Regions from separate parts of the Homo sapiens genome. Here region 1 is linked to region 2. The links come from fine-mapping of genetic effects on gene expression. A gene starts in region 2. The other region holds a variant in brackets. All regions are shown on one strand. Distances are from middle to middle. Region 1 overlaps LOC105378250 (a long non-coding RNA gene). Region 2 holds the start of PRR13 (proline rich 13).

Region 1 (8,330 bases), 410 kb after region 2:
TTGTCTTCTGTGCCCTAAAATATGTGTGGCCTGTGAGGAGGGCACCTGCTCTAAGGCAGAAAGGTGCACAGGGATGGAGCTGATCTTCAGCTCCTGCAGTGGATGGGGAGTGGGGGCAGTTGGTGCTCTTAAGTGTTGCTCTCGGCGTCTCTGGCTCAGGCTTCTGTAAGTACAGACCTGCATCTGAGCCCCGCCCCAAGTGTTGATTATACCCCTTGGGATGCATCATTGCTAAGAAAGCAGATGTGCCAGATGTGACATGTTTGAAAGAAAAAAAAATCCCTCGCCTCTGAGCCTTGAGGGGGGCAGCTCATCACCATCTTGCTGCTGCTTATGGGGAAGGCAGCTGAGGTTGGGCTTAGCCAGCTTCGTACCCTCCTAGTCCCTCCACAGAAGGGTCTCCAAGCACTAAAGGAGCCAGATGTGGGGAAGGAGAGTGAGGAAAGAAGGAAGAGACACTGAGGCCCCATTTCAAATGGAAGAGATTTTGGTTGCCCAGTAGTGGGTGGGCTGCCAGCTAGTTCACCTTACTGGGTTGGGCTCCTCATGTAAGGAGGTGTTGATATGTGTGCATGTGCGTGTGTGTGTGTGTGTGTGTGTGTGAACAGTCTCTAAGTATGAGTTTCTAGGAATTCAACCCCATAATACCACTCTGGTTTATCTTCCAACTTCTCCTGAATGCCTCCCATGACTTCCTGGGAAGCCTCCTGCTCCATACCTCCCTGCTGCCCTTGCAGTTTTCCTAGTTTTATTTTCTTCCTGCCCTCAGAAATTGAGCTCAGAACTTGCTGTATGTCTTGTCCTTTGCCTGAGGGAGAACCTCTTGAGCTGTGCTGACAGATGTCTCAGTCTGGGAAGACGCAGAATGCTTTGCTGGGTACCTCTCTGCCAAGGTGGCACCCAAGATACCCAAATATCAGGGTCTTGGTTCTTCAGTTACTCCCCCAGTCATTCTCAATGCTGATGGGATAAAGGAACAATTCATTCAATAAGACAAGGAAAGGACTCGGGAAAGAAATCCAAGAAAGACTCTTGAGTATACTAGAAAGTTCTAAGACTGAGGTCAAGGTAAAGTCACAAAATACTGCACAATGCCTGGGGAATGGATTTAATGGTTCTAAAGTATCAACAACCCTTAGAATGTTTCCAGACATTCCAGGCATTCCAGAAAGCCTCTGCTTAGATTCCTAGAGGTGATTCTTGATTACATCTTTAAGTGTTGACATTTCCTATTTTCTAAATTAGATTCTAACCCTTCTAATCTGAGCCCAAGAAAAGTGGACCTGTCACCAAGACATCTTGGCGGCTAACCCAAGACTTGAATACTTGTAAGTTAGCAGAGTTCTGTTTCTACCAGCTAAAAGTCCACTGACTAAACCAAATCCTACAAAGTAGCTCTGGCTCTATCCCTAACCTTATCTTTAATCCTGATCCTGAAATTAACCCTAACCCAAATCCCAATTCTAACCCTGCTTACCTCTCCCGTCCCCCACACCCACTACCTGGAATGATTTGAGAGTGGGAGGGGTTGGGGAGGAGAGGGCAAGATGAGGAATGCCTCTGGGGCAACGGAGGAGGAGATCCAGCCAGAGCGACCTGGAGGAGCCAGTGTGGTATCTGGGAGCCTGGGGCATAATCCTGGTACTTGCCAAGCCATGAGTCACAACATCATTCTCCATGGCATTTTGTTGGAGGGTGTCTGGGCTGGCAGCTGGTAAACAGGCTTGCTTAGAATAAGGTGTGCCCCACTGCCCCTCTCCATAATTTGGGGGAGAAGGGAGAAAGTCTTCTGTCCTGAGGGTCCTTCTTTCCTCTGTCCTTTTAGATTTCACAAGACTCAGTCAAAGCAAGAGGAAATACTTGGAACTTAGAAATTCTTTGTTGCTAGTTGCAAGGAAATTATGGAGAGATGAAATCATTGAGAATGCAGAGTCTTGAAGCTTCCAAACGTGAGAGGTGCCCTAGTCCAGCCCCCTAAGCGTTATCCCCCCAAGCGTCATCCCCCTGAGGGATGCCAGGTTGCCCCATTCTGCCCTGTGCCCTCTCATGGCAATGCCCATGCTACTCCACCACCCTCCCACTGCAGTCACTGCCAAAATTCAGATAGGCATCCACTGCGGCTGGATAGAGATCTTTATGGGGGTAAACATGTGCTTGTGGATAAAATAGCAACTGGAAACACCTGGACTTTTTTCCTGAACTTGGTACCTATCCCAGCTAGCATCAGTCATGATGCGTCAGTTTTCTATCTACAAAATGGGACCAACTCTGAGCCTTACTCTTGGGGAAGGTTTAGAAGGAGCAGTACACTAATGACTATTTTCTGACATCGAGAGATGATGATTGGGGTTATTATTGTTTATTCCTTGAGGATGCAAGACAGCCATCAGCCTGACTCTAAACACATGTAGTTCATTGCAATTGCTGTCTTTGGGGCTCAGAGAAGCTCTGCTCCTTGTTTCCCTATCCTTAGCCCGTATCTGCCAATCCTACTATTACTATTTATACTATAAATAGGACTTCAGGGAAGGAGGGTGCCTGGTTGCTTGATGTCTTCCCTCTAGGCCTTATTTTCACACCTTGGAGCAGAATTTACACACCCCTCCCATTACAGATTTAGCTCCTGTCCCAGCATCCTTTGCCGGGTTTGGAGGTTAAAAGTTCTTTAAATCCAGCTAGGAACTGACAGTTGCAGGACCTAACCTGCAGTATGTTATGAGAGACCCCCAATGCTTCATCCTTTGAACGCCACACAACAGTCACTTCAACGAAGTCTTCTAAACTCCCAGGTGCTACCCACTTGGCAGACACCAGTGTTTCAGTTTGTTGAGGATTTCAAAAATACTGTTTGATTTAGAAAAAAGTCAAATGTATAAATCAAACTATGTAAATCAAAAGAGGTTTGGTGTCACAATTCCTGCCAACTGCCTCCTTTTCTCTCTCTCTCTCCATAATACTGAAACATTGTAGTAATAATAATAACTAACATTTAAAGAGCATTTTACAGTTCCAAAGTGTTGTCATTTATCATCATTCGATGATAAACCTGTGTGCTTGGAATTCTTACCCACATTTTACAGATGAGAAAACTGAGGAACAGAGTGTTTAGTGAGTTCCTCAAGGTTACAAAACTAGTAAGTGACCCAGTTGGCATTTGATCAAAATGTAGTGACTGTTACAAGGAGGCTGAAAGTCTTTTTATTGTCCAACTATGGAAAAAGGAGTTAGGGAGCCCTTTCTGAAGAACTTTTCAGGATGGGGAATACAGAATTTCTAATTCACAGAAGTGTTCCTAACTCACAGAATCAGGATAAGATGACCTTGGCCTGGGGCCCAAAAGATATCAGGTGTAAAATACACAGTAAATCTAACTGTAA[G/A]GTCAGATAAATATTAAGAAAAATGAGAAAAAAATGCCATCATTTACATGCAGATAGTATTTAATTGCTGAAGTTTTGAACATTCTAAGCAGTCTTATTTAGAAGTAATCCCCAGAGGCTAATCTGTCCAGGGTCCCATCTCTAGGCCATACTGTTAACACGTGGTTGGATGCCCTGTTCTTTTATTTATTTATTTATTTAATTTTTAAAATTTCCGCTTTTATTTTAGGTTCAGGAGGTGCACGTGAAAGTTTGTTGCATGGGGGAATTGTGTGATGCTGAGGTTTGGGGTAGGAATGATCCCATCACCCAGGTAGTGAGCATAGTACCCAACAGGTAGTTTTTCAACCCTCATCCCCGCCTTCCTTCCTCGTTTAGTATTCCTCAGTGTCTATTGTTTCCATCTTTATGTCCATATGTACTCAGTGTTTAGCTCCCACTTATACGTGAGAACATGTGGTATTTGGTTTTCTTCTGTGTTAATTTGGTTAGGATAATGGCCTCCAGCTGCATCCATGTTGCTGCAAAGGACATAATTTCATTCTTCTTTTTTTTTTTTAAATGGGATGCCCAGTTCTTAAAGATGTCAGGGGAACAAGAGCTCATGTAGTATTTGATTCACCTATTATTAACTTTATCTTAGACCCAATCTAAATATCTTTTGCTGTTATCCCACTAGTTCTGTGTTAGTGGGAGTAGAGTAAAGCTTTCCAATCTCCACCTCTCTCTCTCTCTCTCTCTGCCACTTTTCTGCTTAGAAACTTTTGCTGGTTTCCCACAGCCACCTTATTGGGTGCTTACTATGTGTCAGGCACTGGTGCTTTATATGCACGATCTAATTAGATTGCTACATCAACCCTGTGAGGTAGGGGCTTTTGCTTTCTTCATTTTAACATAAGAAACAAAGAATAGTTAAAAAATTTGTCTGGCATCCCATGACCGGAAAGTGGCAGAGCTGAGAAACTCTGTGTATATTAAAATGTATATTTTATGTCTCTTGATGGCAGGACCTGACATCTCTTGTACCAAACACCAAGCATAGCCCTCCAGTAATGCTCAATAAATGCTTGCTGATGACTATGTTGATGAAGAAAAAAACAGTTCTATGATCAAAATAATCAGGAGGAAGGGGAATTTTAATTTGGACTATCCAATTTGCATAGGAGAACAAACCTCTTGATTCTTACCGACTTTGGTGATGCCATTTCAAGAGCCCCTGCTATGTGCAGAGCTCTCCATTCAGTGGAGGAACCCTCTAGGGCTAAGACCTGATTTCTGTCCTTAGGGAGCTCAAAGGTCAACGGAGGCGACTGCACTCAGATCTAAGACACAGACATTTTTACTGAATTAACATGACCGTTGCAGGTTCTGACACTACCCAAGAAGAGTTTGGAGGCTCTGGTATGCTCTGATGGTAGGAGGAGATGGTACAGGGAGGCCACAAAGACTGATGCTCTTTGGTTCTCCAGTTGTCTTTCAGGAGGTGTAGCCTGGTTGTGGCCTGGGGAGTTTGGCTGTTCTGTGTGGTGTGCCTCCACGGTGTGGTCTCCAGTGAGCTGCTCAGCAGGTAAGGCGGTCCAGAGATGATTTACCCCAGAACAAGGTGAAGAGATGAGAGGACAGGAAGAAGCTCCTCAAGGCCACAGAGCAGCAGAACTGAAACAAGAACCAAACGAATCCACGTAAATGTCTCAGCCTCACAGGGTGCGGGTGGAGAGGAGGTGCCATTTCTGTCAGAATGACCCGGTGCTCCAATCGCTCCCATGTGCCTCCTTTCACTCCCACCACCCGCACTTTGCTTAAGCACCCTGCCCTGAAGCAAGAGCTGAGATGTCAGTTTTTGGGGAAAGTGAGATGCAGAGTTGCCTGACAAATGGGTGGGTCCCCCCAACCCCGCCTAGTTTATGAGCCCAGGGTGGCTCCTCCCTTCTAACACCCTCCCTCTCTTTATGACCCTGCGCAATCTTTGATGTCTTCTTCTTGTGAAGGGTGGTGAGGGAGAAAGAAGACAACCTCAGCCAAAGAGGCCCTGCCCACGATAGTTCTCGGGTGAGGGAAGGGGCTCCAGGGAGTAGGGCAGGGATTTTGCACAAAGAGCGGTAAGTTGGACAAGCTGACACACTGACCATCCCTCCAGATCTGTATCTACTTGGGAAACATCGGCACTACATTTGGTCTCTTTCATGGCAATAGAAAGAACATGCTTAGGCTTTGAGCAAGCCAGGCCTGGGTTCAAATCCTAGAACTTCAACATTCTAGCTTTTTGACCTTGGGCAAATTGCTTAACCCCTTGAGCTTCAGTTTCCTCAACTAAATTAAGTAATACACTATACATTTCATAAGATGTCATGAAAAACTAAGTAAAACATGCTTACATAAAGTGCCAACATCCATCAAGTGTCTTGCATACAAACTTGTCCCTCTAATTAAAAGATACATTTCTTGACAGCAGGGATGTCAATGGCTTGCTGCCCTCCACACCCCTCCACTATTTCCAACACCACAGACCTCTTTGCCTCTCTGTTTTATGTAGAGAGGCATTTTTTACTGAAGCATGTTCTGCTTTCCTTACAAATGCACAAATCCCAGGATTTGTGCCAATCTTTTCTGTCTTCTGCAGGCCCCCATCTCAAAAGCCACAAAAAGAAAAGGTGGCCAGAGAGCTTCTCCTACCCTGGAGAATCCTGTAAGCAACTTTTTCTTCACACTTGGCAGTTTTCCCTCTTCTCTGCCATGCTCCCTTTCTCCTCCATTAAAATGATTTTATTTGCTTTGCTCCTATTCTTATCCATCTATATATTATTTTTTATTTTATAGCTATCCTATAATGGTCTGGGGCTATCCCTCCTGAATCACCAACTAGGCTTACTTTAGGATTTAATTTGGTTTTATTAAAATTACCAAAATTCTCTCTGGGCAGGTGTAGACCCGGGCAGGGCGAAGCTCTCTGGGCTGTTGACTGTGAGGCCCCTCCCCACCGGTAGATTTCCAAGCCTCTTCAGTTTTGCATTCAGCCACAGCAGGTGAGTGTTTCTGGTGCATGTGGACTGTGTGTGCGTGTATGTGTGTGTCCTTACCCTATTTTGTCTTATAAAATCTCATAAAATGGGTTTCCCACTCTCACTACCTTTACTTATCCATGTCTACACTCTTGTTGGGAGCTAATGCTTGCCTACATGATTTTTGCCTTTTCTAAATTCATAAGTAGGAATTTAGAGGAATCCCAGGTAGCCGGTGTAAGTGCATCTGAAACCAGTGAATGCACCACAGGTGTCTGATATGGATATAGGGAGGGGATGTGTGTGGGTGTGTGCATGTGTGTTTGTCTAAATGTAGCTTGAAGTGTAGATGTTTCCCCAAGTGGCTAGACACTACAATCTCAGAACTATAAGAACACAGATTTATACTGCCTAAGGAAAGGCTGTAATGTATCTTAAGAGGTGAAAGAAGCTGCCTACAAGAGGACACAATACCTGCTCTGGGGGGGGGTATAGACACATCCTAATATGTAGATTCTATCAGAGATCATTTTTGGTGTAAACTATAGTAATAGGTTTTAGGCTGCTTTACTCTTTCTTTTCAGAAAAGTAGTGTAGGAAAAGCTTGGCGGGGGAAACAGATTTCCATTTAAATTTTCCAATATATTACTTTTTCCCTTGAATAAAGATATCTTCATTAGGATTCAGAAATTTTTGCTTTAGGGGGGCTGCACCCAGAAGTAGTAGAATAGGAAATAGGAATCAAAGAAAATGAGAATGGTGAAACTGAAAAGAAACCTCCTGAATTGGATTTCTCATATTTATCTTGGTGGTCGATCATTGTCCCCCAAGGCCACCAACCCACACATTGAGAGGTAGAACTCAGGCAAAACTTCTCCCCCAGTTCTGTCTTAGTCTAGTTTTCCTGCCTGAAGAGAGACATTTTCAATTCATCAGAGCTTGTGCCTCCCTCCAACTTAAGATCTAAATGAGTGTTTTCCCACCTCTGTCTATCTACTCACATCCCAAATATCTCCAAAGAAACTGGGGAAGAGCTCTCTAATGGGGAACGTGAACATTCCACTTCTCTATTAGAGAATCCCACAAAATTATGTCAGAGAGCTGCTGGACCAGGAGTCTCTGTTTCTCAGTACCCTGACTTTTGCTCCCTCCCCACTGCTTTGCTTGGCTGGAATCAATTGACATTGAACCTGCCTATTGCATTTAAGAGAAGTGGGAGTACAGAAAGGGTTTTTAAAAAGTTAGCTTCAATCCCAGCACTTTGGGAGGCCGAGGCGGGTGGATCATGAGGTCAGGAGATCGAGACCATCCTGGCTAACAAGGTGAAACCCCGTCTCTACTAAAAATACAAAAAATTAGCCGGGCGCGGTGGCGGGCGCCTGTAGTCCCAGCTACTCGGGAGGCTGAGGCAGGAGAATGGCGTGAACCCGGGAAGCGGAGCTTGCAGTGAGCCGAGACTGCGCCACTGCAGTCCGCAGTCCGGCCTGGGCGACAGAGCGAGACTCCGTCTCAAAAAAAAAAAAAAAAAAGTTAGCTTCATGTTAGGAATAATGCAAGGACTCAAGTGCCTCCCTAAGGATCTAATTTTGAATCTACAGGGTTGAATGAGAAACTAGTCCATTTGAGGCAGCCTAACATGGGGCACTTGAAAATGGACATTTTCTCACGATCTGTCCTTTCCTTTAAAAAAATAATGTAACTTAGAAGAATATGATTATCCTAAAACATTTTATTTTTTAATTAAAGAGGGTTCATTATGCTACCCGTCTCATCTCGTCTCAGAGGAGGAAAACCCTGTGTTCAGCAAGTTTGCTAAGAAATAATTATAGGTTCAGATCTTCCCCAGGCCCCGAAATTCAATTAAAATTTTTTTGTTTTAAGTTGCTAGCAGTCACATGGTATGTATGTGTGTGTGCGTGCGTGCGTGTGTGTGTGTGTGTGCATGTGTATGCCC
Region 2 (8,330 bases):
AGAGTTTCACCCTGTTAGCCAGGATGGTCTCGATCTCCTGACCTCGTGATCTGCCCGCCTCGGCCTCCCAAAGTGCTGGGATTACAGGCGTGAGCCACCGTGCCCAGCCTGTTTGTTTTGAGACAGGGTCTCATTCTGTGAGTGAGACTGGAGTTCAGTGGCATGATCTTGACTCACTGTAACTTCTGTCTCCCAGGCTCCAGTGATCCTACCACCCCAGCCTCGTAAGTAGCTGGGATTATGGGCGCACACAACCATGCCCAGCTAATTTTTCTATTTTTTGTAGAGACAAGATTTCACCATGTTGGCCAGGATGGTCTCGAACTCCTGAGCTCAAGGGAATCCACCAGTCTCAGCCTCCCAAAGTGCTGGGATTACAGGCATGAGCCACCCCACTCAGTCAAAAGATAGTCTTGTTATGTAAGATACTATCACTGGGGGAAGCTGGGTAAATTTTACAACTTCTTGTGAGTCTAAAATTATTTCAGAATAAAAGAACACTGTCTAGGCAATACCACTCAGGACATAGGCATGGGCAAAGATTTCATGATGGGATCACCAAAAGCAATCGCAATAAAAGCAAAAATTGACAAATGTGATCTAATTAAACTAAAGAGCTTCTGCACAGCAAAAGAAACTATCATCAGAACAAACAGGCAACCTACAGAATGGGAGAAAATTTTTGTGATCTGCCAAAGTGTCTAATATCCAGAATCTAGAAGAAACTCAAACAAATTTACGAGAAAAAAACAACCCCATTAAAAAGTGGGCAACGGCCAGCCTCCCCGTCCGGGAGGGAGGTGGGGGGCGGCCCCCGCCCGGCCAGCCGCCCCGTCCGGGAGGTGGGGGGTGCCTCTGCCCGGCCGCCCCTTCTGGGAAGTGAGGAGCCCCTCTGCCCTGCCGCCACCCCGTCCGGGAGGTGTACCCAACAGCTGATTGAGAACGGGCCATGATGACGATGGCGGTTTTGTCGAATAGAAAAGGGGGAAATGTGGGGAAAAGATACAGAAATCAGATTGTTGCTGTGTCTGTGTAGAAAGAAGTAGACATAGGAGACTCCATTTTGTTCTGTACTAAGAAAAATTCTTCTGCCTTGGGATGCTGTTGATCTATGACCTTACCCCCAACCCGGTGCTCTCTGAATCATGTGCTGTGTCCACTCAGGGTTAAATGGATTAAGGGCGGTGCAAGATGTGTTTTGTTAAACAGATGCTTGAAGGCAGCATGCTCGTTAAGAGTCATCACCACTCCCTAATCTCAAGTACCCAGGGACACAAACACTGGGGAAGGCCGCAGGGTCCTCTGCCTAGGAAAACCAGAGACCTTTGTTCACTTGTTTATCTGCTGACCTTCCCTCCACTATTGTCCTATGACCCTGCCAAATCCCCCTCTGCGAGAAACACCCAAGAATGATCAATTAAAAAAAAAAAAAAAAAAGAGATAGGAAAAAAAAAAAAAAAGTGGGCAAAAGGCCAGGTGCGGTGGCTCACGCCTATAATCCCAGCACTTTGGGGGGCCGAGGCGGGCGGATCACGAGGTCAGGAGATCAAGATCATCCTGGCTAAGAGGGTGAAACCCCGTCTCTACTAAAAATATAAAAAATTAGCCAGGCACGGTGGCGGGTGCCTGTAGTCCCAGCTACTCGGGAGGCTGAGGCAGGAGAATGGTGCGAACCTGGGAGGCGGAGCTTGCAGTGAGCCAAGATCGTGCCACTGCACTCCAGCCTGGACAACGGGGCCAGGGCGAGACTCCGTCTCAAAAAAAAAAGGGGGGGGCAAAGGACATTAACAGACATTTCTCAAAAGAAGATATGCAGCCGGCCGGGCGCGGTGGCTCACGCCTGTAATCCCAGCACTTTGGGAGGCCGAGGCGGGCGGATCACGAGGTCAGGAGATCGAGACCATCCCGGCTAAAACGGTGAAACCCCGTCTCTACTAAAAAATACAAAAAATTAGCCGGGCGTAGTGGCGGGCGCCTGTAGTCCCAGCTACTTGGGAGGCTGAGGCAGGAGAATGGCGTGAACCCGGGAGGCGGAGCTTGCAGTGAGCCGAGATCCCGCCACTGCACTCCAGCCCGGGCGACAGAGAGAGACTCCGTCTCAAAAAAAAAAAAAAAAAAAAAAAAAAAGAAGATATGCAGCCAACAAACATGAAAAAAAGCTCAACATCACTGAACATTAGAGAAATGTAAATCAAAACCATAATGAGATACTATCTCATGCCAGTCAGAATGGTGATTATTAAAAAGTCAAGAAATAACAGGCCAGGCCTGGTGGCTCATGCCTGTAACCCTAGCACTTTGGGAGGCCAAGGGTGAGTGAATCACTTGAGGTCAGGAGTTTGAAACCACCCTGGCCAGCATGGTGAAACCCTGTTTCTACTAAAAATACAAATATATATATGTATATATATATGGCAGGTGTGGCGGCAGGCACCTGTAATTCTAGCTACTCGGGAGGCTGAGGCAGGAGAATCGCTTGAACCCGGGAGGCAGAGGTTGCAGTGAGCTGAGATCCTGCCACTGCACTTCAGCCTGGGCGACAGAGCAAGACTCAGTCTCAAAAAAAAAAAAAAACCCAAAACCAAAATCCAGATGCTGGCAAGGTTGTGGAGAAATAGGAACATTTTTACACTGTTGGTGGGAGTGTAAATTAGTTCAACCATTGTGGAAGACGATGTGGCGATTCCTCAAAGATCTAGAACCAGAAATACCATTTGACCCAGCAATCTCATTACTGGGTGTATACCCAAAGGAATATAAATCATTCTATTACAAACATACATGCATGTGTATGTTCACTGTAGCACTATTCACAATAGCAAAGACATGGAATTAATCCAAATGCCCATCAACAATAGACTGAAAAACTGTGGTACATATATACCATGGAATACTATGTAGCCATAAAAAGGAATGAGATCATGTCCTTTATAGGGACATGGATGAAGCTGGAAGCCATTAACCTCAGCAAACTCATGCAGGAACATGTTCTCACTCAAGTGGGAGCTACACAGTAAGAACACATGGACACAAGGAGGGGAACAACACACACTGGGGCCTGTTGGGGGGTAGGGTCAGGGGAGTGAGAATATTAGGAAAAATAGCTAATGCATGCTGGGCTTAATACCTAGCTGATGGGTTTATTGGTGCAGCAAAATTTGTGCAGCAAACCAGCATGGCACACATTTAACTATGTAACAAACCTGCACATCATGCACATGTACCCCAGCACTAAAAATAAAAATTAAAAGAAAAAAAGTTTAAAATATTTCAAATGCTTTAGTTTAATATGACATATTTGGCATAAAATTTATTGTCTTAAATTTTTTTGTATCCCACTTTTTTTTTTTTTTTTTTTTGAAACAGAGTCCTGCTCTGTTGCTTAGTCTGGAGTGCAGTGGCATGATCTTGGCTCACTGCACCCTCTCCCTCCCAGGTTCAAGCGATTCTCATGCCTCAGCCTTCCCACTAGCTGGGATTACAGGTATGTGCCACCATGCCTAGCTCACTTTCTTTCTTTCTTTCTTTCTTTTTTTTTTTGAGATGGAGTCTCGCTCTGTTGCCCAGGCTGGAGTGCTATGGCGTGATCTCGGTTCACTGCAACCTCCCGGGTTCAAGCGATTCTCCTGCCTCAGCCTCTCAAGTGGCTGGGATTACAGGCACATGTCACCACGCCCGGCTAATTTTTGTATTTTTAGTAGAAACGGGGTTTTACCATATTGGCCAGGCTGGTCTCGAACTCCTGACCTTGTGATCCGCCTGCCTCGGCCTCCCAAAGTGCTGGGATTACAGGCGTGAGCCACTGCGCCCGGCCACTTGTATTTTTTTTTTTTTTTTAAAGGCTGGGTACGGTGGCTCACGCCTATAATCCCAGCACTTTGGGAGGCCGAGGCGGGCAGATCACGAAGTCAAGAGAGCGAGACCATCCTGGCCAACATGGTGAAATCCCATCTCTACTAAAAAATAGAAAAATTAGCCGCGTCTGTAGTCCCAGCTACTTCGGAGGCTGAGGCAGGATTATCGCTTGAACCCGGGAAGCGGAGGTTGCAGTGAGCCGAGGTCGCACCACTGCACTCCAGCCTCGTGACAGAGCGAGACTCCGTCTCAAAAAAAAAAAAAAAAAAAAAAAGGGAGGCCATTGTAGGGAGGCCATTGTAGCAATTCAGGGGAGAGATGAATCCAGGCGACAGATGATGGGAGGTTTGGAGCAGGGAAGACAGAGAGAAGTGGAGAGATTCCAGATATATTTGAGAGACAAAACTGATAATTTGGGGTAAGGGAGGTGAAGGAGGCAGAGGGATCACGGACGCCCTCCTTGGTTTCTGGTTTAGGCTACTTGACAGATGGCGGAGCTATGCAATTGAGAGAGGGAATCCTGGGAGAGATTATGAAATCTCTGTATCTTCCGCAAGAATGTTTGTTTGCTTCCCTTGCGAGTGTAAGACGGAGCCGGGAACATTGAGGCTTGGGGCTGGGACTCAGCAGCTCTTCTGCCCTTGCCGAGAACTCTGTCTATATCTGTATTACAACACTTACCATAGTGTATTCATTTTACAAGGTATTGCACCCAGTGAACCATGAGGTAAGAGAGCAAGGGAAGAGTTTCTTCTCGGTGTCTCTAGGACTTTGCCCAGCAGCTGGCCCCGCCCCCTCCAGCGCTCTCCGCCTAGCCCCGCCCCCAGGAGATTTCCGGCTTCTCGGTACTGGCCTAGCCGTAAAGGGCTCCGCTCCGCCCCTAGAGCAACCGTTTCCTCCTCAGTCGGACCAGAGTGATTGATTAGTTTGTTGTCTAATCATCAGTCGAGCGGCCACATAATTACCAATTAGGCAGTAGCAGAGGCGGGTGCCGAAGCACGGGGTCTGGGTGACTAGGAAGAGCCGAGACTGCGAAGGAGAACGCAGCAAGCCCAGGCGGCGGTGGAAAGGTGATGGGGTATCTGGATTCCATAGGTTTTTCCTTTTCCCCTTGCTAGGTCAAGAGTCTCTTCGCAGCTTGGGGCTAGGATCTTCATTTGCCTTTTTTCTTTTTTGGAGGAAGGGGGCTGTGTCCACATATTTAAGTATTTGAGGTTCTTGGGCAACTTCCTTCTTACTTCGCCTCGAGGCGTATCCTTTTTTTAGCCTGAGGTGGGGTCCTCCCCAGGGAGAGAGAAAGTTGTTTGAGATCCTTTCTTACTCTGTGCGTGGTTAAAGGCCTCCGTACTCAGTTCCAGGGAAAGGGAGATGAGTGATGGTGGGGCCGAGACTCGCGGGTACTGCCTACTTCCGAAGAGTTAGACGCTTCCACCTGGGTGGAGGGGCCCTGGGAACTAGATTCCTGTGTTAGGAACCAAGTAGGTATTGAGGGCGAAGAAACAAGTGGAAAGAGACATTTCTTTTCTTTTCTTTTCTTTTTGAGACGGTGTCTTGCTCCGTCGCCCAGGCTAGAGTGCAGTGGCGCGGTCTCGGCTCACTGCAACCTCTGCCTCCCGGGTTCAAGCAATTTTCCTGACTCAGCCTCCCGAATAACTGGGATTACAGGTGCCCGCCACCGCGCCCGGCTAATTTTTAGATTTTTAGTAGAGACGGGGTTTCACGATGTTGGCCAGGCTGGTCTCGAACTCTTGACCTCGTGATCCACCCGCCTCGGCCTCCCAAAGTGCTGGGATTACAGGCGTGAGCCACCGCGCCCAGCCAGAAAAGAGACATTTCTTATGTGGAAGTTGTGGTAGTTCTCCAGGTAGGAGAGCCTACTGTGGGGTGGAAGACGTTAGGGCTGGGCTCCGGTGCTAAGTCCACTTCCTACCTCTAGACCGTCATCTTTTTTGCCTCATTTCTTTCTCCTCAGGCTGGAGGACACACCTAAACATGTGGAATCCCAATGCCGGTAGGTGTTTGGGGGTTCTGTTCCACCCCTAACCCTTTTTCTGATGGGCTCTATAACAGGAAGTTTCTGTATCAGCTCCCCTACCCCCGACCTGCTGTACCCGCAAAAGCAAAGTCCTTAGTCTAGAGCTGACCAGTGCTTTTTAATTTAATTTAATTTATTTATTTTTTGAGATGGAGTCTCTGTTGCCCAGGCTCACTGCAACCTCCGCCTCCTGGGTTCAAGCGATTCTCCTGTTTCAGCCTCTGGAGTAGCTGAGATTACAGACGCATGCTATCACGCCCGGCTACTTTTTGTATTTTTAGTAGAGATGGGGGTTTCACAATTTGGCCAGGCTGGTCTCAAACTCATGGCCTCATGAGATCTGTCCACCTCGGCCTCCCAAAGTGCTGGGATTACAGGCGTGAGCCACCGCGCCTGGACTGACCAGTGCTTTTGTCTTCCTCAGAGTTCACTGTCTCCCTCCTCTCCCTAGCCCTTCCAGGGACATTCCCCCTTTTCTCCCCAACTCAAGTTTGTCTCCCCTACCCTCCATTCTTCTTTGTCATCTTTCCGTTTCCCTTTAAGTATTGAGTGAGAAAGAATCTCTTTCTTTTTGTTGTTTGTTGTTGGAGACTCTGGGGAATTCTAATGTTTATTCTCTGCTTCTTCCACCAGGGCAGCCAGGGCCAAATCCATATCCCCCCAATATTGGGTGCCCTGGAGGTTCCAATCCTGCCCACCCACCACCTATTAATCCACCCTTTCCCCCAGGCCCCTGTCCTCCTCCCCCAGGAGCTCCCCATGGCAATCCAGCTTTCCCCCCAGGTGGGCCCCCTCATCCTGTGCCACAGCCAGGGTATCCAGGATGCCAACCGTTGGGTCCCTACCCTCCTCCATACCCACCGCCTGCCCCTGGAATCCCTCCTGTGAATCCCTTGGCTCCTGGCATGGTTGGACCAGCAGTGATAGTAGACAAGAAGATGCAGAAGAAAATGAAGAAAGCTCATAAAAAGATGCACAAGCACCAAAAGCACCACAAGTACCACAAGCATGGCAAGGTCAGTACCCTCTGGAGACTGGCTAGGGAAGGAGTCCCCCCTCAGAGGGACTAGGTAGGCAGGGGTTGGGTGAGGGGGATTCACATTCTGTGGACGTGAGGGATGACAATTGTGTCGCTCTGGTAGATGATTCTTCCTTTTTATAAAAGATTGCTACTGGGAAGAATCTGATTATCTTGAAAATAAACATCAGGCTTCTCCTATCTGGGGGGAGTTAGGGTGAGCCTTAGAATGGATTTTAGAATCAAAAGCCAAATCTTTTCTGCCCTACTCTCCCAGAACTTTTGCTCCCCTCCCGCCAGGTGCATATTCTAGCAAGTTGGACACGCCCACTGACATTGTCAAAATACCAAAGTCATTCCTTTGACAAAGCAAGGTCTTATAATAATTAACAGAATTAATCTGTCCCTAGTTCCAGAAGTTCCTTCTCTCTTTCATCAGTGTTCTTAGGGCGTTGTGTTAATTACATGGGTCCTTTGCCCTATCATCCAGCAGAAAAAGTGAGGACAAGAGCAGTCAGTGACTAGGCTTCTAACAAAGCCTAGGACTAAGGAGGTTTTTTTTTTTTTTTTTTGAGACGGAGTCCCGCTCTTTAGCCCAGGCCAGATTGCAGTGGCACAATCTCGGCTCACTGCAAGCTCCGCCTCCCAGGTTCACGCCATTCTCCTGCCTCAGCCTCCCGAGTAGCTGGGACTACAGGCGCCCGCCACCGCGCCCGGCTAATTCTTTGTATTTTTAGTAGAGATGGGGTTTCACCGTGTTAGCCAAGATGGTCTCGATCTCCTGACCTTGTGATCCGCCCGCCTTGGCCTCCCAAAGTGCTGGGATTACAGGCGTGAGCCACTGCACCCAGCCCTAAGGAGGTTTTATACTCAGCTCCAAGGCTAAGTATCTTTGTTTTAGAGGAGTGTTAAAAATTGGTAAGGGTGGCCAGGTGCCATGGCTCATGCCTGTAATCCTAGCACTTGGGAATTATTAGCTGGGTGTGGTGGCGCATGCCTGTAATCCCAGCTACTCAGGAGGCTGAGGCAGGAGAATTGCTTGAACCCGGGAGGCAGAGATGGCAGTGAGCCCAGATCTCACCACTGCACTCCAGCCTCGGTGACAGATAAGACTCCATCTCAAACAAACAAACAAAAAATAGCAAGGATAAAAGCAACTCTGAGGACAACTCTGGAAGGATTAAACCAATCTGCATCTTGATGAGGCCTCCATTTACATTTAACTGCCCAGTATTTATTTGCCTTGTGGATTCTAATTCCTGATTCTGGGTCTTTGATAGAAATCTGAAGAGAAGGCTGTGCGCCGTGGTCCACACCTGTAATCCCAGCACTTTGGGATTCCGGGGCGGGCGGATCACGAGGTCAGGAGTTCAAGACCAGCCTAGCCAACATGGTGAAACCTGTCTACTAAAGATACAAAAA

What was found. PIP is the estimated chance that this variant, and not a neighbour inherited with it, causes the effect.
Region 1: its variant is fine-mapped to the expression of PRR13 in tibial artery (GTEx, PIP above 0.99). The same link has a PIP of 0.9 or more in tibial nerve.

The regions. Positions count from the first base shown.
Region 1 is chr12:53,844,013-53,852,342 of GRCh38, forward strand. It overlaps LOC105378250 (a long non-coding RNA gene), which reads left to right. Exons shown (of 5, transcript NR_189099.1): 2 at 4,847-4,944; 3 at 6,298-6,400. Among named protein-coding and RNA genes, the nearest start is that of HOXC13, 91 kb to the right of the region's middle. RefSeq lists an enhancer at 4,261-5,460. The variant G/A (reference allele first, on the strand shown) is at 3,378.
Region 2 is chr12:53,436,868-53,445,197 of GRCh38, forward strand. It overlaps PRR13 (proline rich 13), which reads left to right and starts at 4,867. Exons shown (of 4, transcript NM_018457.4): 1 at 4,867-4,925; 2 at 5,828-5,866; 3 at 6,524-6,906. The coding sequence starts at 5,848. RefSeq lists enhancers at 3,839-4,604, 4,335-4,424 and a silencer at 4,715-4,864.